Linked DNA regions of Homo sapiens: regions 1, 2, 3 and 5 are each linked to region 4. Evidence: fine-mapped expression QTL. A gene starts in region 4. Each other region holds a variant in brackets. All regions are shown on one strand. Distances are between the middles of the regions. Region 1 has its middle 5.4 kb from the start of OR10H1. Region 2 overlaps OR10H5 (olfactory receptor family 10 subfamily H member 5). Region 3 holds the start of CYP4F3 (cytochrome P450 family 4 subfamily F member 3). Region 4 holds the start of CYP4F12 (cytochrome P450 family 4 subfamily F member 12). Region 5 has its middle 23 kb from the start of OR10H3.

Region 1 (5,104 bases), 150 kb before region 4:
GCTCAATGATTTGGAATGTAGAAAAGAAATACTTTGATAAATATATAGGCAAAAAAATTAGCTGGTGTGCTGGCACACACTTGTAGCCCCCCCTAACTTGGGAGGCTGAGGTGGGAGGATTGCTTGAGCCTGGGAGGTAGAAGTGGCAGTGAGCCAAGATTGTGCCATTGCAGTCCAGTGTACCATGGTCATGGTGTACCATGAACCTAGAATTCAATAATTTTAAAATAATTTTGTAATAATTCATAATGATTTTTCTCTACCTGCATTTTAGGAAAGAAATGGGGAGATAAGAACATTGAAGATCTGTACCAAAATCCTGGGAGAAATTTAAGGTAATTTTCAAGAGAAAGCAGTGTCCATCAAGAGAATCGTAGACTGTCAGGAAATTCTAAAAACAAGCCCAGTTTCAATCTGTTTATTCTTAGAAAACTTTCTCTATAAATATATACTTAAATGAGACATATATATGTTTGCAAAAAAAGTTTACATGGAAACACTATTATGAAACCACATATAGGCTAGGTGCAGTGGCTCACACCTATAATCCCAGCACTTTGGGAAGCCAAGAAGGGTGGATTGCTTGAGGTCAGGAGCTTGAGACCAGCCTGGGCAACATAAGGAGATCTATTCTCTACCAAAAAAAAAAAAAAATTAGCTAGGTGTGCCAGCACACACCTATAAGTCCCCCTTACTTGGGAGGCTGAGGTGGGAGGATTGCTTGAGCCTGGGAGGTAGAGGTTGCAGTGAGCCAAGATTGTGCCATTGCACTCCAGCCTGGGTGACAGAGCTAGACCCTGTCTTAAAAAAAAAAGAAGAAGAAACCCCATGTTAATATTTCTATTTTCATAGCAGCTGTAGTTGGGCGCTCCTGCAGACCATTCAATCCATTCATGGCCAAACAGTGGAAACAGGTTAGAAATCCTACCTATGCTTCCACTGATGATGTTAAAAACATAAATCCAGGAGGTTGAGGCAGGTGGATCACTTGAGGTCAGGAGTTTGAGACCAGCCTGGCCAACATGGTGAAACCCCGAATCTACTAAAAATACAAAAATTAGCCAGGTGTGGTGGCGGGTGCCTGTAATCCCAGCTACTTAGGAGGCTGAGGCAGGAGAATCGCTTGAACCTGGGAGGCGGAGGTTGCAGTGAGCTGAGATCGCACCACTGCACTCCAGCCTGGCAACAGAGTGAGTGAGACCCTGTCTCCAAAAAACTCCACATAAATCCAATACCCATCAATAACAAATAAATTATTTATAAAAATACTTAATAATGTACTTATTTTGTACAGAAATCATATGGTAGAGAGACCCTGTGAAAATAAAGAAGGTAGTCAATGTGGAGAAGCCTTCAGCCAGATTCCAGGTCATAATCTGAATAAGAAAACGCCTCCTGGAGTAAAGCCACCTGAAAGCCATGTGTGTGGAGAGGTCGGCGTGGGCTATCCATCCACTGAAAGGCACATCAGAGATCGCCTTGGACGCAAACCCTGTGAATATCAGGAATGTAGACAGAAGGCATATACATGTAAGCCATGTGGGAATGCCTTTCGTTTTCACCACTCCTTTCACATACACGAAAGGCCTCACAGTGGAGAAAACCTCTATGAATGTTAGGAATTTCAGAAAACATTCACTTCCCCCCCAAACCTTCAAAGATGTGAAAATGCATAGTGGAGATGGACCTTACAAATGCAAGGTGGGTAGGAAAACCTTTGACTCTCCCAGTTCATTTCGAATACATGGAAGATCTCATTCTGGAGAGAAACCCAATGTGTGTAGGCACTGTGGGAGCACCTACAATCATTTCAGTTTTGTGTGTGTGTGTGTGTGTGTGTGTGTGTGGCAAGGTCTCACTCTTGTCATCCAGGCTGGAGTGCAGTGGCACGATCTCAGCTCACTGCAGCCTTTGCCTCCCAGGTTCAAGTGATTCTCCTTCCTCAGCCTCCCAAATAGCTGGGATTACAAGCGCGTGTCACCACGGCCGGCTATTTTTTGTATTTATGGTAGAGACGGTGTTTCACCATGTTGGCCAGGCTGGTCTCAAACTCCTGGCCTCAAGTGATCCGCCTGCCTTGGCCTCCCAAAGTGCTGGGTTTAGAGATGTGAGCCACCACACTTAGCTGGGATTCTTCTTAGCAAGAGCTGAAAGACTAGGGTAAAAGGACTCAAGGCCCCAACAAGCCTGTCTTGAAGCTCTTTTTGATGGTAGGAGCACCCGGTGGCCAAAGATACCCATACATCACAAACATCTGGATAGAAGTAAGAGGTCTCCCTCCCATGCTGTGTCATTGAGTGCACACCAAGTTTCTTGGGTTATATATTTGGCATTTCTGTAATTCCATAGAGATAATCATCAACGGTTTTCCCCAAGTGATACCTCCTTGGGGGCATCCTAATCCTTGAGCACTGGCATACCGTTTCAGTGCCAGTCTTGTGGCCATTTCTAGGCCTAAGTTTTCCAGTTTAAGTCCCCTCTCTGAGCCTTCTGGCTGGAAAATGTCTTTGTGAATCCACATCCACCCATGCTTTCGAAGAGTCAACAGAGATCCCAAGCGGCTGTGATGTGAGATGGTGGAGGAAGCAGTGGCAGAACCCAGGTCATGAGTGTGAGTGACCTCAGTTACTCCAATCCCTGCAGCTACATAAGAGCTCAGTCACCCACAGACACGGTCACAATAGTCTCACAACTGAAGAAGACGCCAAGGTTATTTTTCTTCTTCAGCACTGGTTTTGTTGTGTCCCATAAGACAGGGGTTCCCCAAAACGCCCAGCTGGTAGCGGTCTGTGGCTGTTAGATCTGGGCCACACAGCAGGAGAGTGGCGGAAGGGGTGGGGTGGGGTGAGCATTACCACTTGAGCTCCGCCTCCTGTCAGATGGGTCAATGGTGGCATGCTGGTATTAGATTCCTATAGGAGCGTGAACCCTATTGTGAACTGTGCACACGAGGAATCTGGGTTGGGTGCTCTTTATGGGAATCTCATGCCTGATGATCTATTACTGTCTCCCATCACCCTCAGATGGGACAGTCCAGTTGCAGGAAAACAAGCTCAGGGCTTCCACTGATTCTACATGATGGTGAGTTGTATAATTACCTCATTATATATTACAATGTAATAATAATAGAAATAAAGTGCACA[A/T]CAATAAATGTCATGTGCCTGAATCATCCCAAAACCATCCCCCAACCCCAGTCCGTGGAAAAATTATCTTCCATGAAACTGGTCCCTGGTGCCAAAAAGGTTGAAGCCTGCTGATGTGCTACTAGTATATGGAGTATTTCCACAGTACACGTGCAATAGTCATAAACTCAAAAGCACAGACAATGGTAAAATATATATGAAATAATTAAGAAGTGATACATTTTAAGCAGTTATTACAGCTTTAAGCTTCTAGAGTTCATTACTTTCTCACCTGCTTAATCTTTAAGAAAATTATTTGTCTCTAAGAACTTCTGAGACTTTCAGATAGAAGAATCAATCTCCTTATAATCTGTATTTACAGAAGACCTGCCATCAATTGGTAGGTGCTGAAAATAACGCTAAGAGTCATAGATGAACCTTTCAATCATGACAGAAGTGAGAAGACAGAGCTCACTCCTAGATTCCCTTAATTTATTTCACTGTAATTTCATACAGTTTACTTTTAATCAGAGCTGTGTTTAACAACCAGGTTGCAACAATTTTCAGAAGTTGACAACTGGCTGTTCTGAGTTGGTTGAAGCTGTTCAGTCATCACCTCCCCCGATCCCATCCTCCCTCAGGTGGCTGAACATGTCACTCATAGGATTTATTTATTTATTTTTAATTTGTAAATAATTGTTGGTAGAGATGGGGGGGTCTCATTATGTTTCCCAGACTGGTCTTGAACTCCTGGCCTCAAGTGATCCTCCTGCCTCGGCCTCCCAAAGTGCTGGGATTACAAGGATTTAAACCCTCTGGTGACTCTCCAGACATCAAGAGGAAGCCACAGCTCCTTCGACCACCCTCCAAGTCTCCTTAAGCTGTCCTTGGCCACCTCTCCAGACCCTCTTCCATCTTTGTCCTCTCCTTGCCTCATGTCCCTGGCTTACTAGACTGCATTCAGGCTCGTTCCACCATATCCCTCTGAAGCCATCTTCAAGACTCTGTTCTGTCTACTTGTAGCACCTTTTCTCTGATCTTCTGACTGGCTGAAGTCTACTCATCCTTATGACTCCCATCACCAATTTTGATGGACTTTTCCTGGTCCTGCCACCCCTCCTTGCTAGCTCAACATCGATCACACCATGACATATTTTTTTTTTTTTTGAGATGAAGTCTAACTCTATCACCCAGGCTAGAGTGCAGTGGTGCGATCTTGGCTCACTGCAACCTCTGCCTCCTGGGTTCAAGCGATTCTCCTGCCTCAGCCTCCCAGGTAGCTGGGATTACAGGTGCCTGCCACCGCGCCCAGCTAATTTTTGTATTTTTAGTAGAAACGGGGTTTCACCATGTTGGCCAGGCTGGTCTCGAACTCCGGACCTCATGATCCATCCGCCTCGGCCTCCCAAAGTGCTGGGATTACAGGCGTGAGCCACCGTGCCCTGCCACCGTGACATAATTTTAACTTTAATATTTGTGTCTTTCCTGCCACTGTGTACTCCACAGGAGAAGGTTTCCAGCTTCATTTATCTTTGTACCTTGGTGCCAGGCACACAGTTGTCGCTCCATAAATGTCTGCATATTAGTTACTTAGTGTGAGCATGTTTTATAATCCCGATTAGTCTGTTTATGTGCTCCTGGAACAGATAAGTTAGAAATGGCTAAGTTCAAAGTTCTTCATTATATTTATATCATTCCAAATTTTGAAAAATCTCTCCAAAAATTTTAAGGCTTTAATTTGTATACGTGCTGCCATATCTTATTTCTGCGGGTCCCTCCAGTGTATCTAAATTCCTCCAAGACAAAGATGCCAAGAACATACACTGGGGAAATGACACTGTCTTCAGTAAATGGTCCTGGGAAAACCAGATATCCATGTACAGAAGAATGAAACTAGACCCCTATCTCTCACCACATAAAAAAATAAAGTCAAAATGGATTAAAGACTTAAATCTAAGACCCCAAACTATGAAACTACTAAA
Region 2 (5,104 bases), 120 kb before region 4:
ACACCCAGCTAATTTTTGTATTTTTAGTAGACACAGGGTTTCACCATGTTGGCCAGGCTGGTGTCGAACTCCTGACTTCAAATGATCCACCTGCCTCGGCTTCCCAAAGTGCTGGGATTACAGGAGTGAGCCACCACACCCGGCCTAATGCAATATTTTAAAAAACCAAAATGAATGCAAAAAAAATCCACGGTGAACAAAATGTCAACATTTTAAATAATGTTTAAAGGAGGTGAGGTGTCTCCCTCACCTCACCCTGACCTGGCCCTCAGGGTCTAGAATATGCCATGTATAAAAACAACACTAAGCCCAACTTCTCCGGTTGTTTCAAATTTACACAATGACTACTACTAAATAAAGTGAAGGAGTAATCACAAAGCTTATTTTAATTTCAGAATGCATGGACATTGGTCAACCAAACTACAGCAAGCTGGCTCGCTTTTCTGATCACCACGGGGAACCACAATGACACATCTTGGATATAACCCAGAAGCCACCTTTCCTGCACTCTTTCAAACTCACACAGTCTGATTTTTACCTGTTTCCCAGCCTATTCCAAGGTATCTTCAGAATCATGATCAGCTAGAAAGCACTAGCTACACCCCAGGACACGTGGGGTATAAACAGGGTATAACATTCTCTTTTCCATGACAACTCGAGGTGATGGGGGTGGAAGTTTAACATTTGGGATCCCTTTACATTTTATAGGGGAGGCAAAGAATGCCCCCCCAGATATTAGTAGTTAAGTGCCCTAGAACTTCTTCTTCTTTTTTTTATTGTTTTTTTGAGACAGAGTCTCGCTCTGTCACCCAGGCTAGAGTGCCATGGCCCAATCTCGGCTCACTGCAACCTTCGCCTCCTGGATTCAAGCAATTCTCCTGCCTCAGCCTCCTGAGTAGCTGGGATTACAGGCATGTGCCACCACGCCCGGGTAATTTTTTGTATTTTTAGTAGAGACGGGGTTTCACTATGTTGGTCAGGCTGGTCTCAAACTCCTGACCTCGTGATCCACCCACCTCAGCCTCCCAAAGTGCTGGGATTATAGGCATGAGCCACTGCACCCGGCCGGAACTTCTAATATAACCCAGGAACCCGGATTTAATGGGTAGTTTTTTTTTTTTGCAAAGCGTTTAATTTAATTTAATTTAATTTTTTGGGACAAGGTCTCACTCTGTCACTCAGGCTGGAGGGCAGTGGCACAATTACTGCTCACTGCAGCCTCAACCTCCTGGGCTCAAGTGATCCTCCCACCTCAGCCTCTTGAGTAGCTGGTACTACAGGCACATGCAGCCATGTCTAGCTAATTTTTTAATTTTTTTGTAGAGATAAGGTTTCACTTTGTTGCCCAGGCTGGTCTTGAACTCCTGGACTCCAGTGATCCTCCTGTCACGGCCTCCCCAAATTTTGGAATTACAGGTGTGAGGCACTGTGCCTGGCCCAATTTAATATTTGAATGTGACACACTCTTTCGTATTAACACGTCTACTAAAAAACACAGAAATACTACAGCCAGTTTGGCCAAACTCATAAGGTGTATCCCTAATTCTCTGACACTGGGTGATTCCTCCTAAACCCATAGAGACAGCATATTTCTAGTTCTGGGCTCACTCCATTGGTGCTAGCTAGAATGTGTCTCTTGTTTTCAATCCAGCTCTTCCTCCCTTTCTGGAACAGACTGACTTCCCCTCTTCACAGGCCCTGAGAAATGTGTACTTCTTATCCCCAGCTCTAATTTAAAGAATAGGTTCAATTCTAGCTTTTCCATGTCAGTGACAAGACCTTTGGCTAATTAACTTAATCTCTTCATAACTTAGCTTCCTCATCTTCAGAATAGAACTTGGCCGGTGTCACGGCTCATGCCTGTAATCCCAGCATTTGGGGAGGCCGAGATGGCAGGATTGCTTGAGGCCAGGAGTTCAAGACTAGCCTGGGCAACATCGTGAGATCCTGTCGCTACAAAAAATACAAAGTTACCCTTGTGGTGGCATGCATCTGCAGTGCTAGCTTCTCTGGAGGCTGAGGTGGGAGAATTGCTTGAGCCCAGAAGTTGACGCTGCACTTAGCCATGATTGGACTACTGCACTCCAGCCTGGGCAACAGAGCAAGACCGTGTATAAAACCAACCAACTAACGAACAAACAAAATGGAGTTAGTAATCCTATCTTCCCTGTGAAGTAAAATAACTCACATGTGTTAAGCACCTAAAGCCTGTCATTAGTCATTGGGGAAATGCAAATCAAAACCCCAATAAGAAACCACTGGGATGTCTACAGTAAAAAAGTCAGGGCTGGGTGTGGTGACTCACGCCTGTGATCCCAGCACTTTGGGAGGCTGAGGTGGGCATAATGCCTGAGGTCAGGAGTTCGAGACCAGCCTGGCCAACATGGTGAAACCCCGTCTCTACTACAAATACAAAAATTAGCCAGGCATGGTGGTGTGTGCCTGTAATCCCAGCTAGTCGGGAGGCTGAGGCAGGAGAATCGCTTGAACCCAGGAGGTGGAGGTTGCAGTGAGCCGAGATTGTGCCAACGCACTCCAACCTGGGTGACAGAACGAGACTCAGTCAAAACAAAAACAAAAACAAAAACAAAAGAACAAGGAGGGAGAAAGAGAGTGACAGAGACAGAGAGGTATAGAAACAGAAAGAGACAGAGAGAAGGGAAAGAGGGAAGTAGGCAGAGAAGAAGGAAGGGGGAGGGAGGGAGGGAGGAAGGATGGAAGGAAGGCAAGGAGGAGGGGGGAGGGAGGGTGGACTGTAGGTCAGAGAAGGAGGGAGGAA[A/G]GGAGGGAGGGAGGAAGGAAAGAAGGAAGGAAGGGAGGGAGGGAGGAAAGGAGGGAGGGAGGAAAGGAAAAGAAATAAAGGAGGAAGACTAAAGTGTTCCCATTCGCTACATCTCTTGAGAGAAAGTCAGCCATTTCAGCAGTTCTGTGGAAAGAGTTTGGTGAAGCAAGTCTTCTTCATGGCGACCTTCAGCTCCTTGTTCCTGAGGCTGAAGATGATGGGGCTGAGGAAGGGTGTGAGGACCGTGTAGGTGATGCCCATCAAGGTGTCTCCTTCCGGAGACTGGGGACCTTTGGGCTTCAGGTAAATGACGGAGGCAAAGCCATAGTGCACGACCACCACAGTGAGGTGAGAGGCACAGGTGGAGAAGGCCTTGTTCCGACCTTCAGCAGAAGGGATCTTCAAGATGGCGGCCACGATGAAGGCATAGGAGAGGAGGATGAGGAGAAAACAGCCCAGCAGGGCCGTGATACACACCAAGCCCACGCCTTTGGCCACCACCAGCACATCATCTCCACAGGCCAACTTCAACAGAGGTGGCACGTGGCAGAAGAAATGGTGGATCTCCTTGTGTCCACAGAAGGCGAGGTGGAAAATGGCCGAGGTCACCACCATCCCCATGACCAAGCCACCAGCCCAGGAGCAGCCCACCCGGCAGGTGCAGCCCCGCAGGCTCATGAGCACGTTGTAACGCAGGGGGTGGCAGATGGCCACGTAGCGGTCGTAGCCCATGACAGTGAGCAGGAAGGAGTGGGTGAAGCCGAAGCTGAAGGAGAAGAACATCTGACTGGCACAGGCCAGGAAGGCGATGGAGCGCTGGGTGGACAGCAGGTCGGCCAGCATGCGCGGGATGATGGCCACGGTGTAGAGGATCTCGGTGATGGAGAGGGCACACAGGAAGAGGTACATGGGCATGTGGAGGCTGCGCTCGCTCCAGACAGTGGCCATGATGAGCAGGTTGCCCAGCAGCGTGAACAGGTACATCAGCAGGAACAGCAGGAAGAGCATCAGCTGGAGGTGGGGGAAGGCAGAGAAGCCAACGAGGATGAATTCAGACACGGAGGTGTGGTTTAGCCCCTGCATGGCGGCCACCCCTAGTTGGTGGAGAGAGGAAAGAAGACCCAGTGGTTAGGAGCACAGGGGTGTCTAGTGACTCCCACCTGGGAGGACATCTGAGAGCGCCTTCTTCATCTGTCCAAGCCATGGTTACTCCATGTGCAAAAATATGTTATTTATTTTTAGTTTTAGTTTTTGAGATGGGGTCTCGCTCTGTCACCCAGGCTGGAGTGCAGTGGTGTGATCTCAGCTCACTGCAACCTCTGCCTCCTGGGTTCAAGTGATTCTCCTGCCTCAGCCTCCAGAGTAGCTGGGATTACAGGCATGTGCTACCACGCCAGCTGATTTTTGTATTTTTAGTAGAGATGGGTTTCAGCATGTTGGCCAGGCTGGTCTCGAACTCCTGACCTCAGGTGATCCACCTTCCTCAGCCTTCCAAAGTGTTGGGATTACAGTCTTGAGCCACCACGCCTGGCCAAAAATATGTTAATAATAATGTGCTGAAGTTTAGCCTGGGAATGATGGCTCACACCTGTCATCTCAGCACTTTGGGAGGCGGAGGCAGAGGGGGGTCACCTGAGGCCAGGAGTTTGAGACCACCCTGAGTAACATAGTGAAACTCCATCTCTACAAAATAAAAATTTAAAAAAAAATTAGCCAGGCATGGTGGTGCATGCCTGTGGTCCCAGCTACGTCAGAGGCTGAAGCAGAAGGATCACTTGAGCCCAGGAGCTTGAGACCAGTCTGGGCAAAATAGCAAGACCCCCATGTCTACGAAGTATAAGAAAATGTGCCACACATTGTGGTGCATGTCTGTGGTCCTGGCTAGTTGAGAGGCTGAGGTGGGAGGATCGATTGAGCCTGGGAGGTCAAGGCTGCAGTGAGCTATGACTGAGCCACTGCACTTCAGCCTGGGTGATAGAGCGAGATGCTATCTCATAAAACAAAAACAAAAACAAAAACAAACTGTGTAAAGGTTTAAATAAGATCATGCATCTTACTTGCTTTGCACAAGTCTTGGCCCGTAGTAAGAACCTCACAAATAGTAATACTGATAAAAATAATAATTATTATTCCTATTTTTAAATCTCGGTGGTCTCTATTCAGCCACACCTGGGTTGGATCCCCACTTCAGAGCTAGGGGACCGTGGGTTGGTCCCTTGATTGTTGTGAGCCTTAGTTTTCTCATCCCTAAAAGAAATGGATAATAATCCCAAATTGACAGGGTTGTTATGAGGATTTAATAAGATTATGCTCATAATGTACCTG
Region 3 (5,104 bases), 31 kb after region 4:
CAGGCAAGGTGACGCTAGACCTGGCAAGGGGCCTTGAACACTAACGATGCCCAATTGCATCACCCTGCACTCTCCTTTCAAACATCCCTACTCATTGTTCCAGACATGGCTCCAGTAACTCTTCCTCCAGGAAGGCTTCCAGCCTGCCCCAGCAGAGAACTTGCTCTTCTCTGGGCTGTCATCCATCTCCCTCTGGCCCTTTCTTGACCCCATGAAGTTGGGGATGTCTCTGTCCACATCCACCTCCTTAAGCTTGGGGGTTCCTCCAGGACAGGGCCTTGGGTTGAGGTCTCTTGGGGCCCCAGGGCAGCCCAGAACACCAGGACAGGGGGTCAGATGGCAATGGAGAGAGGAGATGCTGAGATGGGAATTAGTGAATACATGAAAGAAAGATGAAGATGGCTGAGAGAGAAGGAAAGGAGAGACCAGAGTACTGCAGGGGCCACACACGGCTTGGGGATAGAGGGACTTGCAGGCCTCAAATGCACCATAGCACCCACCACCAAGTATTCCAGGTGGTACCTGAGGCGTTGATGACAGACCGGATGATGTTGGGGTGGCAAAAACGGATGACGGGGAAGATGGGGCCCATCCAGACCTTAAAGCCCTGGGGGTAGGTGGCCACCAGCTGAGTCAGGACCCTCATGCCCTGCTCCGTGGGGGTGACCTGCAAGCAAGGCAGGGGCCGTCACCTCCTGTCATGGTTAATTCTAGGTGTCCACTTGACTGGGCTAAAGGATGCCCAGATAGTTGATCATCCGTCTGTGAGGGTGTTTCCAGAAGAGACTGGCATTCAATTTGGTAAACTGAGGAAGGAAGAATCACCCTCCCCAGTGTGGGCAGAGCTCATTCAATCTGTTGAGAGCCCAGGTAGCACAAAAATGCAGAGGAAAGGCTAATTTGCTCTGTTGTGGGGCTGGCACATCCATCTTCTCCTGCCCTTGGACACCAGAACTCCACCGTCTCAGGCCTTTGGACTCAGTTACACAACCAGTGTCTGTTTATCCAGCCTGCAGACAGCAGTCCATGACGCATCTCAGCTTCTATAATCCTGTGAGCCAATTCCCGAAATAAACTCCCTCTTCTATCTATCTATCTGTCTGTCTGCCTGTCTGTCTATCTATCTATCTATCTATCTATCTATCTATCTATCTATCTATCTATCTATTTACCTATATATATCTCTACATATCTACCTATCTATGTATCTATATATGTATGTATGTATGTATCTATCTGTCTATCTATCTATCTATCTAATCTATCTATCTACCTATGTTTCTATGTATCTATCCATCTATCTAATCCATCCATTCTATCTTATATATCTGTCTATCTATCCATTCATCTATCCTATCTGTGCATCCATTCATCCATCTAGCCTATTATCTATCTACCTACCTATCTATCTATTCATTTATCTATCTAATCTATTCATCCTATCTAACTTTTCTATCTATATATCTATCTGCCCATCCATCCATCCATCCATCCATCTTATCTGTACATTCATCCACTCATCCATTTATCCTATTATCTATCAATCATCTAGCTATCTATCCATCCATCTAATCTATCCATCCTACATATCCACTCTACCTATCTATCCACCTAATGTATCCATCTTATCTACTACTTTATGTATGTATTATCCATCCATCCATCCATCCATCCATCCATCCATCCATCTTATCCATGCATCCATCTGTCCATCCATCCATCTATCCTGTTATCTATCTATCTATCTGTCTATCTACCCACCTACTTATCCAGCCAGCCAGCCATCTATTCACCCTATCTGTGCATCCATCCATCCATCTATCCTATTACCTATCTATCTGTCTACATTCCTCCTGCTCTATCTCTCTTGGGGCCACCCCCAAGTCCCAAGAGCGCATCCCAAGGCAGAAGGAAAAGACACACTGTCCACTCACAGAGGCCCACTTAGCTTGAGAGGAAAAATTTCCTTGTTCTGGGAGTCATTTCAGCCCAGAGGTGGGCATATGAGGAGGTCCTCACAGGGGAGGTTTGTGGGGAGCAGTGTGGACTCAGGACATGTCCCTAAGGCTGGTCCCCACATCCCTTCATGCCCTGGCTGGTTCCTCCACCAGCCACACAGGTTCCAGTTCCTCCCATGGAGAAGGTTCTGCACACAGGGGACCTTCCCTTCTCAGCAGTCACTAGGGGAGCAGAGGTGACTCTAACTGTCCATCATGACAGTGGCTCCCACCTGGGAGAAGCTTCTGCACCAGGCTCTGTGCTAGTGCATCCTGTGCACCCTCCCACTTCACCTGTGGACACACCCATCAATCCTGCCATTTGCAATGAGCAGATTGAGACCACGTTCCGCAAAGGGGAGAGCAGGTCTAAGTCAGAGGGCAAGGTCTGGGGGAGGAGAAAGGTCAGGGAAGGCTTCTGAAAGGGGAAGTGAGTGGCCAACTTTT[A/G]TGTGGGTTTGGCAACAGGACCCCATTGGGACATCTTACTGGGGAGGAACAAGATAAGAGGAAGGTGCCTCCGGATGTGGTGGAGGTGAGAGACAGCCCACACCTCTCCTCTGGCCCACCTATACCCTCATAAGAGGAAATAGGCCAGGTAGGGAGAGGACCCTGAACAGTGGGTACAGGAGGCCTCGAGTCCAGCAATGGAGAATGTGGGAACGCCAGGGGTTCACCTTTCTGTGCACCCAACCCCCTGCCCAAGAGCCCCGCAGAGGTGCATTAATGTGGAAAGACAGGCAGGAAAAGGATTCAACACAGGCCAAGAGTGGGAGAACAGGGAGGTGAGAAGGGCTTGGGTTGGCACCTCACAGAAATGAGTAAGCAGAGGAATGAGTAAGACGCCTCCCCTGCTTCTCTGCCACCCCAGACCCCAGCCCACCCCCTCTCACCTGAGCCTCATTCTTACCCCTCAGGAAGTCCATCCACCCTGAGACCCCAGACCCGTCCTGCTGCCACACTCACCAGGCCCAGGTGACCCAAGAACCAATTCCGTTTCGGGGGTTGCGGGAAACACCGGAGGCGGCAGCAGTTGTCATAGAAGGTATAGGTCCAGGCCAGGATGCGGGCCAGGAGCCAGGAGGCCCCAACCAGCAGCAGGAGCAGCCACGGGGATGCTGCCATTGGCCAAAGGCCCAGCGAGGACAGGCTCAGCTGTGGCATCCTGCAGGGCAGATGGGGTGGTGAGTGAGGTCCTGAGGCCCAGGGAAGGGCCCAGGGAGCTCCAGGGACAGTGGAGAGAGGCAGAGACGGGCAGTGCTGGAGATAGAACAGTAAGAGTAAACAGGGATGGATAAACAGGGGCTGAGGGGTAAAGTCCAGAAAGGCCCAGCCAAAACCAGCAACCAAGTGGCCTCCAGTTACCCGGTAAGCACTTAGATTGAGAAAGACAGAGAAACTGATTAAAGTCCAGAAAGGCCCAGCCTGAATCATTAGGACGTTGCCAGGGGCTTGGTTTCAGTTAGAAAACCACTCATCCTCCAAGCCAGCAACCAGGAGCTGCCTGGGCCTTGGGCAGCAATGGAGAATGTGGGAAGGCTGGGGCTCCCCTATGTGTGCGCCCAATCCCTTGCCCAGTGCCCATCTCCATCACAGGCTAGGATGCCCCAGGCCCACCACCCCCACCCTGGCACCTTCTGTCAGGAGCACCTTGTCCCACACAACCTCCTCTCCCCTTCTTCTGGGAGGTTTTTTCCCCTGGCCCCTGATGTAGGGAAGGCTGTGGGAGGCTAGGCTGGGCTGGGCTGGGCCAGCCAATCCCCACAGCCTGGGTGCCGCTCCCATGTCTGGGCAGCTGGCCAAAACCTGGGTGTGGGAGACCAGCTGGATGCAGAGGAACCAGCTCAGGGTGACACAGCACAGGCACTGGATCCTCAGGTCTCAGCACCTCCCACATAAGGTGGAGAGTAAGCCGAGAGGGGTCAGATAGAGTTTCCACTGTGTGACACCTGCTCTTAAAGAGCACCTACTGAGTGTGTGGCAGATAAAAGCATGAACTTGAGAGTTCAGGTGTCAAGCGAGCCAGGCCAGGCCAAGCCTTGTTCCAGATCATCTCCTGTGCTCCTCTCTAACCCTGGGCCGGTAGGACACCGTGTACCACTTCTGGATGCTGAATCAGGCAACCTGGAAGAGACAAGCCTCTATCCCCCTGCTGCTGGATGGAGTTCAAGTCTTGCCTCCAGGCAGTCCAGGGCCCTGTTGGAGACCTGACTGCTAGGAACGGGAACAAAGAATCCAGCCCCACTGAGGATTACCTGGGTCAGATTCTGGAGATTAAGAGCTCAGCTGGAAAAGCAAATCTGGAGGCCGGACTCAGTATAGGAGGACAGAGCGGGGACGTGGAGGGTTAGGATGAGAGGGAACGGATGGGGTCCAGGCAGGGGAAGGGCAGAGCCAGGGAACCATGAATGGAGTCCTCATTCTGCCTCATCCTTGCTCTGACTTTGGTCAGTACTGCCCCTCCTGGGTGCAGTCTTCCCATCTGGGAAATGGGATGTTCGATGAGGGCCTTAGCGGGGGACAATGAGGGCTCCTAAGAGGAGGGAGCCCCAAAAAGGAGTGAAGGGAAAGGGTGGCAACTAGCACTTGAGCTGCTGTGTGCCAGTCTCTACTCTGCACAAAGGCTGCATGGAAAGTACTTCTACTGTGTGCCAATACTCTAAATGAAGGGCAGCTACTGTGTGCCAGGTGCTAAATCCTGTCTACTCTGTGCCAAGTGCTTTCCATAAAGTGTGCCTACTGTGTGCCAGGTGCTCTACATTAACCCTGTATACTCAGTTCCTGATATTCCTCATAGAGTGCCTACTGTGTGCCACCTGCTCTACATAGTGAGTGCCTATTGAGTGCCACCCCCTGTATATGAAGAGTGCCCACTGAGCACCAGTTGCTGTCTACATAACACATGCCTACTGAGTGCCAAGTGCTCTACATAAACAGTGCCTACTGATACCACCTGCTCTATATGGTGACTTCCTACTGAGTGTTTCCTGATCTACATAAAGAGGGTCTATTGAGTGCTGCCTGCTCGAGTGTTGCCTGTGCTCCATAAAGTGTACCTACTGTGGGCTGCCTTCTGTACATAAAGGGTGCCTACTGAGTGCTGCTTGCTC
Region 4 (5,104 bases):
CTCAGAACTCCAGGGACTCAGGCCTTTCTGGACTCAGGCTGAATTTACACCACCAGTGTCCCTGGTTTCTGGCTTGCAGATGATATATCATGGGACTTCTTGGCCTCCATCATCACATTATCCAATTCCCATAATAAATTCTTATCTCTCTATCTCTTTCTGTCTCCATACATACATGCATTAGAGATAAGAAGAAACACCCTATCTGTTTCTAAGGAGATTCCGTTTCTAGGGAGAACCCTGACTAATGCACCTCCCTAGATGAAGCCACAGCAAGTCCCCCCACAGCCACCGGATGTGGTGCAGCCTCTGCAGTGAGCAGCGTGTCTGGATTCTCAGCAGCTGCAGTGGGTTTCTGCTGACTTCTGCTCCTTCTCTCTTGGAGCTGTCCCCAAGATCCAAGGGTAAATACCAAAGCAGAGAGAGAAGACAAGCTGTCTGCTCAAGAGGATGTGTTTTCTCATCCTGGATTGATTTCAATCTGGGGATTGCTATATGGGAAGGTCCCCATGGAAGGAGGTTTGTGGGCAGCAGTGTGGCCTCAGGACATATCCCTAGAGCTGGTTGCCATATCCTTTTGTGTCCTGGTTGGTCCACATGGGCACTGGTTCCTCCCACAGACAAAGGGCCTGCGTCCTGAGGGCCCTCCATTCTCAGCAGCCTCCAGGGGAGCAGAGGTGACTCTAATGTCCATCAGGATGGCAGCTCCCACCTAGGAGAGCCTCACTTATGCCAGGTTCTGTGCTAGTGCCTCCTGTGCACCTGTGGACACACCGATCAATCCTGCCTTTTGTAAGTGAGCAGACAGAGGCCACATCCCCCAAAGGGGAGGGCCGGTCCCAGTCGGAGGGAAAGGTTTGGGAGTACCAAGGACGGCTTCTGAAAGGGGAAGGGAGTGGCCAAATTATATCCAGGTTGGGCTACAGGGCTCACTGGGACATCTTACTGGGGAAGAGCACATTGTCCCTGGAAGGAGAGGGTGTGGGAGACTGCCTGCACTTCTCTTCTGGTCCAGCTGTGTCCCTCCGTGGGGAAGGAAGTCAGAGATAATTCCTGCGGGAAAGCAGCAGCCCAGAGATGGGCAGATACAAGCAAATGGGCCATGCAGGGAGCAGCCTGTCTATCGGGGCTCAGAAGGCTTCAAGTCCAGCAGTGGAGAAGGTGGGAATGCCAGGAGAGCCCTGCTCTGTGCACCCCACAACCATACAGGAGCCTCTGGGAGGGGCACTACGGTAGGGAAGACAGGCAGGAAAAGGATCCAAGCAGGCTGAGGTGGGAGGACAGGGAGGTGAGAAAGGTTTGGCATGGAACTGCAGAGGAATGAATGAATGAGGAAAGGAATGAGTCGGTGGGTAGAGGAATCAGTGAATGAGGAGAGGAATGAGTGAGTGAGGAGAGGAATGAGTGAGTGGGGAGAGCAAAAAGTGAGTGGATAGAGGAATAAGTGAATGGGTAGAGGAATGAGTGAGTGGGCAGAGGAATGAGTGAGTGATGAGGGGAAGGAGTGAATGAGGAGAGGAATGAGTGAGCAGAGGAATGAGTGAGTGAGCAGACGAATAAGAGTGAGGAGAGGAATGAGTGAGTGAGGAGAGGAATGAGTGAATGAGAGGAATGCGCGAATGAGAGGAATGCGCGAGTGAGGAGAGGAATGAGTGAGTGAGGAGAGGAATGAGTGAGTGGGTAGAGGAATGAGTGAGTGAGGAGAGGAATGAGTGAGTGGGTAGAGGAATGAGTGAGTGAGGAGAGGAATGAGTGAGGAGGGGAATGAGTGAGTGAGGAGAGGAATGAGTGAGTGAGGAGGGCAATGTGTGAGTGGGTAGAGGAGTGAGTGAGTGGGTAGAGGATTGAGTGAGTGGGTAGAGGAGTGAGTGAGTGGGTAGAGGAATGAGTGAGTGAGGAGAGGAATGAGTGAGTGAGGAGAGGAATGAGTGAGTGAGGAGAGGAGTGAGTGAGTGAGGAAAGGAGTGAGTGAGTGGGTAGAGGAATGAGTGAGTGAGGAGAGGAATGAGTGAGTGAGGAGAGGAGTGAGTGAGTGGGTAGAGGAGTGAGTGAGTGGGTAGAGGAGTGAGTGGGTAGAGGAATGAGTGAGTGGGTAGAGGAATGAGTGAGTGGGTAGAGGAGTGAGTGAGTGGGTAGAGGAGTGAGTGAGTGGGTAGAGGAGTGAGTGGGTAGAGGAATGAGTGAGTTAGCAGAGGAATGAGTGAGCCATCTCTCTTGCTTCTCTGGGGTCGCAGACCCCAGCCACCATCAATACCTAGCTCACTGAGCCCCATTCCTGCTCCTCTGGAAGTCCATCCACCCTGAGACCCCAGACACATTTTGCTGTCACACTCACCAGGCCCAGGTGACCCCAAAACCAGTTCCGTTTTGGGGGCTGTGGGAAACACTGGAGCCGGCGGCAGTTGTTATAGAAGGCATAGGTCCAAGCCAGGATGCGGGCGAGTAGCCAGGAGCCCACAACCAGCAGCAGGAGTAGCCATGGGGACGTTGCCACCGGTCTGAGGCCCAGCCAGGGCAGGCTCAGCAGCGACATCCTGCAGGGCAGAGGGGATGCAGGGTGAGGACCTGAGGCCCAGGGAAGAGCTCCGGGGACAGTGTATAGGGGCGAAGTCAGGAACTGCTGGGGGCAGGGCAGGGAGGGCTCAGGGGTGAGTAAACGAGGGCTGAGATCTGAAGTCCAGAAAGTCCCAACCAAAACCAACAACTAAGTGGCCTCCAGTAACCTGGTAACCACACAGAAAGGGAAAGAGATGGGCCGATTAGAGTCCAGAAGGGCCCCACCTGAATCCTTGGGAGTTTGCTAGGAGTCCAGTTACCAGGAAACCCCCAGTTTCCCATGCCAGCATCTTGGAGCCACCCCAGCCTTAGGCAGTCCCCTCTTCATCCCAGGCCAGGACCTTCCAGCCCTGCCACCCCCAGCCTGGTACCTTCTGTCGGGAGCAGCTTGTCCCACACAACCTCTTCTCCTCTTCTGCTGGGAGGTCTTTGGCCCTGGCCCCTGATCTAGGGAAGGCCGTAGGAGGCGGGGCTGGGCTGGGCTGGGCTGAGGCAGCCAATCCCCACAGCCTGGGTGTGTCTTCCGTGCCTGGGCAGCCAGCCAAAACCTGGGGTTGGGCCCACTGGGTGCAGCTCAGGGTGCCCCAGCACGAGCACTGAATTCTCAGGTCTCAGTACCTTCTTGGGAGTTTGCAGGGGAAGTTGGAGGGTGGTTAGAGGGGACTCTGAACCCCAAGTTTACCTCCACCCTGCCCTTCCAAGACAAGGGTGTTCAGATAAAAGCATATACTTATCATGACAGTTGGCAGCCAGCTGAGCTGGGCCAGGCCAACCCTTGTCCCAGATCATCTGGGCTCCTCTCCAAACATGGGCGGGGAGGATGTCAGGCACTACATCTTGGTGCAGACTTAGGAGATTCAGAGACAGAAGCCTCTCATCTCTGGCTTCACAGCCTGGCAAGAGTTCAAGTCCTGCCTCCTGGCAGCCCAGGGCCTGAGTTGAGGCCTGACTGCTTGAAGCAGGAAGAAAGAATCCAGCCCCAACCCCGCTGAGGATTACCTTCGTCAGATTCTGGGGATAAAGAGCCCAGCTGGAGGAGCAAACCTAGAAGCTGGGCTCAGCTTAGGAGGACAGAGCGGAGGCACAGGGGATGAGGCTGAGAGGGGCCTTGAGCTGACGGGGTCCAGGCAGGGGAGGGCAGAGCAAGGGGATCCCGAGTGGAGTCCTTGTTCTGCCCTGTCCTTTCTCTGACTGTGGGCAGTGTGGCCATCCTGGGCTCAGGCTTCCCATCTGGGAAATGGGATGTCAGATGAGGCCTTAGAGGGCGACGGAGGAAGGCTCCTAAGAAAAGGGAGCTCCAAAAAGAGGGACTGAAGGGAAGGGGATGACAACTAGCACTTGAGCTGCTGTGTGCCTGTCTCTACTCCATGCGAAAGACTGTACGGAAAGCACTACTGTGTGCACCTACTGTGTGCCAGTTTCACTATATAAAGTGCACTTACTGTGTATCAGATACTGTACATAAATTCTGTCTACTATGTGCCAGGTATGCCACATAAAGCTCACCTACTGTGTGCAGCATGCTGTACATAATGTAAGCTTACTTTATGCAGAGTACTTCATATAAAGCGTGCCTACTCTGTGCCATGTGCTGTATATAAAGCATACCTACTGTGTGTCAGGTGCTCCACATTGAGCATGTGTACTACGTACCTGGTGACCCACAGAAAGCGCACCTACTCTGCATCAAGTAATCTACATAAATCTTGTCTACTGTGTGCTGGCTATTCTACATATAGTGCACCTACTGTGTGCCAGGAGCTCCACATAAATACTGTCTACTGTATGCTGGGAGCCCTTCACAAATCCTGTATCTTGAGTCCCTGGCCCTTTATATAAACCATGCTTGCTGTGTGCCAGGTGCTCTAAATAAAGCACACCTACTGTGTGCCAGATGTTCCACATAAAATGCTTCTCCCGTGTGTTAGGTCCCCTACATAAAGTAAAACTACTCGGTGCAACATACTTGACATAAAGCACACATACTGTGTGCCAGGTACACTATATAAAGTGTGCCTTATTGTGTGCCAGATATGCTACATAAAGAGCACCTACTGTGTGCCAGGTATGCCGCATAAAGTGTACCTACTATGTGCTAGGTACGCCACATAAAGTACACCTACTGTGTGCCAGGTGCTCTACATAAGGTGCACCTACTATGTGCCAGGTGCTCTATATAACGTGCACCTGCTTGTATCAGATGCTCACCTGCATCACAGTGCCCAAAGCTGTCCCACCACCCTCCCAACAGCTCCCTAGGCCAGAACCCTGGGCATTGTTGAAGAGACCTGAGTGATGGCATCCAGAGGAGAGAAGGTGTCCATTTAACACAAAAGCAAACTGAGGCTCAGAGAGGGCAGGCCTCTAGTCCAAGTTGCAGAGCTCATAGGAACTCAAGACTATGAGACCCTCAAGTCCAAATCCGTTCCCTCTGCCATGCTGCTCCACCCCCATTCTTTAGTGTCAATGCCATATTAATATAGGGACATTTATAATGGAGTAATCTCAGGCAGTGTGATAGCCCCAAAGGGGAAATATCTTGAGGCCC
Region 5 (5,104 bases), 87 kb before region 4:
TGCTGTTTTTCTTCGGGTTGTTTTTTCATACTTACTTAAAAGGATGTGTATTACAATAATCTTTTTTTCTGTCTTTTGTTGCAAAAGATTGCCTTTTGACTTGTTTGAGGGTACTTTTGGTTAATTTTTATGAAGTCAAATTCGTCTACATTTTCTTTTGCAGCCATAGTACCCATCTATTTCCCAGAGTTTCGTTCGTCTACATTTTCTTTTGCAGCCATAGTACCCATCTATTTCCCAGAGTTTCGTAGAGCTTCCTTCAGCAGATGGGAAGTTTTCATTTATTCACTTGTCTGTCTCTGAGCTTTCTAGTCTTTTGAATAGGTCTGTTTTTCTGTTCTTACAGCATTGCCAGACTATTGCTATTACTGCAACTTCTTAATAGGTTTTAATAGCTGGTAGAGTGACTTTTTTTTAAATCACCCCTTACATACATTTGTTGCCATGGTAAAGTGTATCTTTTATTTGGATTGAGAGAAATTTATAATAAAATACAGAGATTTCATGTTTCTTTTTAAGTTTAATCCAGGTATTTTATATTATTATGACTAGCATCTTTTATTATCATCTTTTCAGTTGGTGGTTATTTCTACATGAAAAACTAATGATTTATACATATAAATTCTGTGCCCAATGAACACAGTACATGCTAAAGATGATGCTGTGTATCAAGAGAAAAAATAAGTAAAAGCTCTTGGGACAACTGGAAAGCCTTCTGGAAAAAAGGCAACAAGCTGGTTCTCATGTCTTATGACAAGATAATGTCCAGATTAATAAAATTTTTTTAAAAGAGTCTTAAAAGCCCTAGATGAAACCATGAGAAAATTATTTCATAGCTCCAGAGTAGGGATAACCTTATTTTGACGTAAGTTCCAGGGGCTAAGAAAAAGTGATAAACTGTTAAATGAGAAAAAGATATAGGCCAGGCACGGTGGGTCATGGCTATAATCCCAGAACTTCGGAAGGCTGAGGTGGGCTGTGGTGGGCAGATCATCTGAGGTCAGGGGTTCAAGACCAGCCTGGCCAACGTGGTGGAATCCCATCTCTACTAAAAATCAAAAAAATTAGCCAGGCATGGTGGTGCAGGCCTGAAGCCCCAACTACTCAGGAGATTGAGGCAGGAGAATCACCTGAACCTGGGAGGTGGAGATTACAGTGAGCGGAGATTGCACCACTGCACTCCAGCCTGGGCAACAGAGTAAGATTCTGTCTCAAAAAAAAAAAAGATGCAGAATACTAGTGTATAGTAGATGGTGTGCTCCTATATAATTTTTTTAATATACTAAATATTAGCACAGGAAGGACACATTAAAAAAATAATAACCTGGGCAACATGTGGGGAGAAGTAGATGGCATTGGGCCATAGGAGTGGATTATATTTTACAGTTTTCAAATTCTGAATCAGATAGGTTTAGATGGTATTAAAATTTTAAATAGCCAAGGCAAAAGAAGAAAGATTAAGCAGATAATTCAGCTCCTTTACTGGATCTTAAACGTTTATAAACGTTTTCCAGTGGAGCTTCCTGTGTTTTCTAAGTATAACATCACTATCTGCCAAAATGATACATTTACTCCCACATTTCAAATTGCATGACTCTCTTGTTTTTCCCTTGCCTAATTGCACTTGCTGGTATCTCTAGTTCCATGCGAAATAAGAGCAAAACATTGGATCTGGGTATTTTGTTTCTTATTCATTTGCATTTGAGTTTGCTTTCTTGCCATAGACAATATTTATTTTTATGCAAATTTGTTAACTTTTTTCAGCTGGCTTCTGGGTGTGTTTTCCTCAGAGTATATATTTTTAACTACTTGGCTAAATTTTCTCTGGTACTTCTAATTCTCTGTTTTTCTAATTTTTTCTGTTTTTCTAATTCTCAAACTTTTGATCCATGTGGAGTTTATTTTGTTACAGGGAGAAAAGGTCTCACTTGGAAATAGAGAAGCTGGAGAAGTGTGTCTTTGCTCCCTTGATAATGATTGGGGCTGGGGTGTTGCCTTAGGTACGACCTGGCCCAGCTGCCCTTCCTGACCATGTGCGTGAAGGAGAGCCTGCGGTTGCATCCCCCTGTTCCGTACACCTCCCGCCACCGCATCTGGGACATTGTGCTCCCAGATGGTAGGGTCATCCCCAAAGATGCTCACAGCCTCATGGGGAGGAGCCCCCCGGGTAGGAAGAGGGGTCCTTCAGGGGGATCCTTGTCCTGACTGCCACCTTCTCTCCCACAGGCATTATCTGCATCATCAACATTATAGGAATCCATCACAACCCAACTGTGTGACCGGATCCTGAGGTGCTGCCTTTCCCATCCACCCCCGACCCCCTGCCCTCTTTGTCAATTCCAAGGTTCCTAGAGGAGGAGGCAGGGTTTTGATCAGGAAAATCCAACATCACCTCGCCCCAACACACACACAACTGTCTTTCCAAGGCTGCTGGACCTGGGAGACCCCACCCAGCAGCCCTCTTGGTCTTACCTCCAGGTCTACAACCCCTTCCGCTTCAACTCAGAGAACAGCAAGGAGAGGTCACCTCTGGCTTTTATTCCCTTCTCTGCGGGACCCAGGTAAGGGCCACCTGTGTCTGGTATGGGGATGGGGTGATAGGTGCGAGGGTCGAAAAAGGGGGAAGTTTGCAGATGGTCCCAGTTCCAGTTCTCTTTCCCTCCATTCCTTCACAGTTTATGGGAAAATGTCCATAGAATGGGGGTGAGTAGGTCCTAGAGGGTCCGCAGAGTGCTCAGAATCCCCTCCTCCATCTGCTGGTCTGAGCTGGGAGCTGGAGTCTGGCCCAGGCTCTGGGGGACATGCAAACCCACAGGGGGGTCCCACGCATGCTCAGCCCCTCTCTATCTCTCAGGCTGATCTGGGTGCGGTTGAGGATCCCGGGCCAGGTTTCCGGCGTGATGGGGCCCAAATGCGGATCCTGGGCGCAGTCACAGTCCCCACTCCCACCCGCAGGAACTGCATCGGGCAGGCGTT[C/G]GCCATGGCGAAGATGAAGGTGGTCCTGGCGCTGACGCTGCTGCGCTTCCGCTTCCTGCTGGACCACACGGAGCCCCGCAGGAAGCCGGAGCTGATCATGCGCGCTGAAGGAGGACTTTGGCTGCGAGTGGAGCCCCTGAACGCGGGCTTGCAGTGACCCTCTGACCCATCCACCTGCCTTTCCAGATTCTCCGGAATAAAACTGTGCCTGGGCCTCTACTGACAGCCAGCAGGGGGCTCTTGAGGACTGGGAGGCGTCAGGGAAGGGGCATAACCTGGGCGGGTTAGGTGGGGTGTTGTCACTGAACCCAAGAACCTGACTGCCTCTTTGGCTGATCATAGGGCCTCCATGCTTTGGGAGTGTCCCAAGACCGAGGTCCTTAGCCAGCTCAGAACACAGGGATAGAAGGGTGCAGCTTCTATCCTGGTAGGCTTTTAGGAATTCTTAGCTCCCTTTCTTGCCAGCATCCCACCCTACGTCTCCCCCTTCAAGTTGATCGCTTTTGTGAACCCCCTTCCCCTACCTTCAGACAGCTCCATTTTTTTTCCTCTTTTGAACCCTCTGACTCTGCCCAGGCAGCCTGGCCAACAGATACTACCTGAATCCTCCCCCTACTCTCCTCTGCTATGTGCCAGGCACCCTCACACATGTCAGGGGTTCAGCACATCCCCACCCTTTCACCTCTAGGTTCCTCCTTCATTCCCATCACCTGCCCATGTTGGGGTGGGGTGCAGTCAGGGCCATCCTGTTTGACCCTTGAGATCCAAAGCCAGATGACTGGAAGCAAAACACCATCCCAAAGGCATGACATCTGGAACCAGACTACTTGGGCTCAAGTCTCAGCTTTGCTGTGTGGCTTGGGCAAGTTAATTCTCCTCTCTTTTCTTCAGTTTTCTCAAGCATATAATGGGGACAACAATGCTACCTTTGTCAGGGTTTTCCTGAGGACAAAATATGAGAGACTCAGAACTGTGCCTGGTGCACATTGAATGCTCAATAAATACGGCCATTATTACCTGCTCTCTGAGAAAGTCTGGTTAATAAAGCATGTTGCCTTTCAAGATAGTTTTTTTCTACCATGACTTTAAATACTGTTTTGGAACTCATAGGCAAAAATTCCAATATCTGTGCTTCTTGAATAATCTCTTCATTTTTAGAGGACTGTACATTTAGGAGACAATTTTTTCCAAGAGTGGTAAAAGCACCTAAAATGTGGCAGGGTGGTAGGAGAAGGAGAGAATCCTCAGTTAATGTCTTAAAATAATGTCCCACTAGTAAAGCTGACCTCTGTTCATAGCTTAAGGAATTCTGCATCTCTGCACCCTGCTGACTTGTCAAATCTCTCCAGCCGATATCCCTCCCTTGTTACACTCAGTCGCCTTGTCCTTGATTCTGATCTCCAAATACATTATATTTTCTTGTACAGGACCATTGCATTTTCTTTGTACCTTTGTCAAAGATCAGTGGTGCCAAGAATATTCAATGGGGAAAAGACAATCTCTTCAGTAAATGGTGGTGAGAAAACTGGATGTCCATATGCAGAATAATGAAACTGAACTCTTATCTCTTATTGTATTCAAAAATCAAATCAAAATGGATTAAAGACTTAAATGCAAGACCTGAAGCTATGAATTACTTGAAGAAAACATTGGGGAAATTCTTCAGGCCATTGATATGGGCAAGAACTTTTTTGATAAGAACTCAACAGCACAGACAACAAAGGTGAAATAGACAAACGAGATTACAAAAGACAAGCACAAATCCCACTGCTACCACTGCAGCTAGTGCTCTTTTGCAAGCTTCACATCCTGGCTGTAGGCCAATTGACAGAGTCCATTATAACCTCTGCAGGCACATAACAGCAACCAGGAAGGAGAAAACTTGTGTGTGACCTCGGTTATCACCATTGCCTGCATCAACTTGGTTAATCAGGAGGTTCTCAGTCTGTCCACATGACCAGTTCATTACTACTACAACTGGCATTTGAGAAAGCCAAATTAAGCCTATTTATAACCAAACAATATCACAGAATCTACGTCACCCCTCTGCCACCCCCATCAGAGCTGGTGCTGTTACCCACTGCTGGGAGTCTTGAGGATAGATCACATCATTGGACCCCTGAAAGCA

Evidence for each region. PIP is the estimated chance that this variant, and not a neighbour inherited with it, causes the effect.
Region 1: its variant is fine-mapped to the expression of CYP4F12 in whole blood (TOPMed, PIP above 0.99).
Region 2: its variant is fine-mapped to the expression of CYP4F12 in whole blood (INTERVAL, PIP above 0.99).
Region 3: its variant is fine-mapped to the expression of CYP4F12 in whole blood (TOPMed, PIP above 0.99).
Region 5: its variant is fine-mapped to the expression of CYP4F12 in esophagus muscle (GTEx, PIP above 0.99). The same link has a PIP of 0.9 or more in atrial appendage, gastroesophageal junction, lung, sigmoid colon, subcutaneous fat and tibial artery.

Annotation. Positions count from the first base shown.
Region 1 is chr19:15,818,508-15,823,611 of GRCh38, reverse strand. It overlaps the pseudogene ZNF861P. Among named protein-coding and RNA genes, the nearest start is that of OR10H1, 5.4 kb to the right of the region's middle. The variant A/T (reference allele first, on the strand shown) is at 3,144.
Region 2 is chr19:15,792,807-15,797,910 of GRCh38, reverse strand. It overlaps OR10H5 (olfactory receptor family 10 subfamily H member 5), which reads right to left. Exons shown (of 2, transcript NM_001004466.2): 2 at 1-3,873. The coding sequence starts at 3,862. The coding sequence ends at 2,915. Among named protein-coding and RNA genes, the nearest start is that of OR10H5, 7.7 kb to the right of the region's middle. The variant A/G (reference allele first, on the strand shown) is at 2,780.
Region 3 is chr19:15,639,470-15,644,573 of GRCh38, reverse strand. CYP4F3 (cytochrome P450 family 4 subfamily F member 3) reads right to left here and starts at 3,677. Exons shown (of 13, transcript NM_000896.3): 1 at 3,629-3,677; 2 at 2,961-3,159. The coding sequence starts at 3,158. The variant A/G (reference allele first, on the strand shown) is at 2,445.
Region 4 is chr19:15,670,959-15,676,062 of GRCh38, reverse strand. It overlaps CYP4F12 (cytochrome P450 family 4 subfamily F member 12), which reads right to left and starts at 2,976. Exons shown (of 13, transcript NM_023944.4): 1 at 2,928-2,976; 2 at 2,336-2,534. The coding sequence starts at 2,533.
Region 5 is chr19:15,758,272-15,763,375 of GRCh38, reverse strand. It overlaps the pseudogene CYP4F24P. Among named protein-coding and RNA genes, the nearest start is that of OR10H3, 23 kb to the right of the region's middle. The variant C/G (reference allele first, on the strand shown) is at 2,977.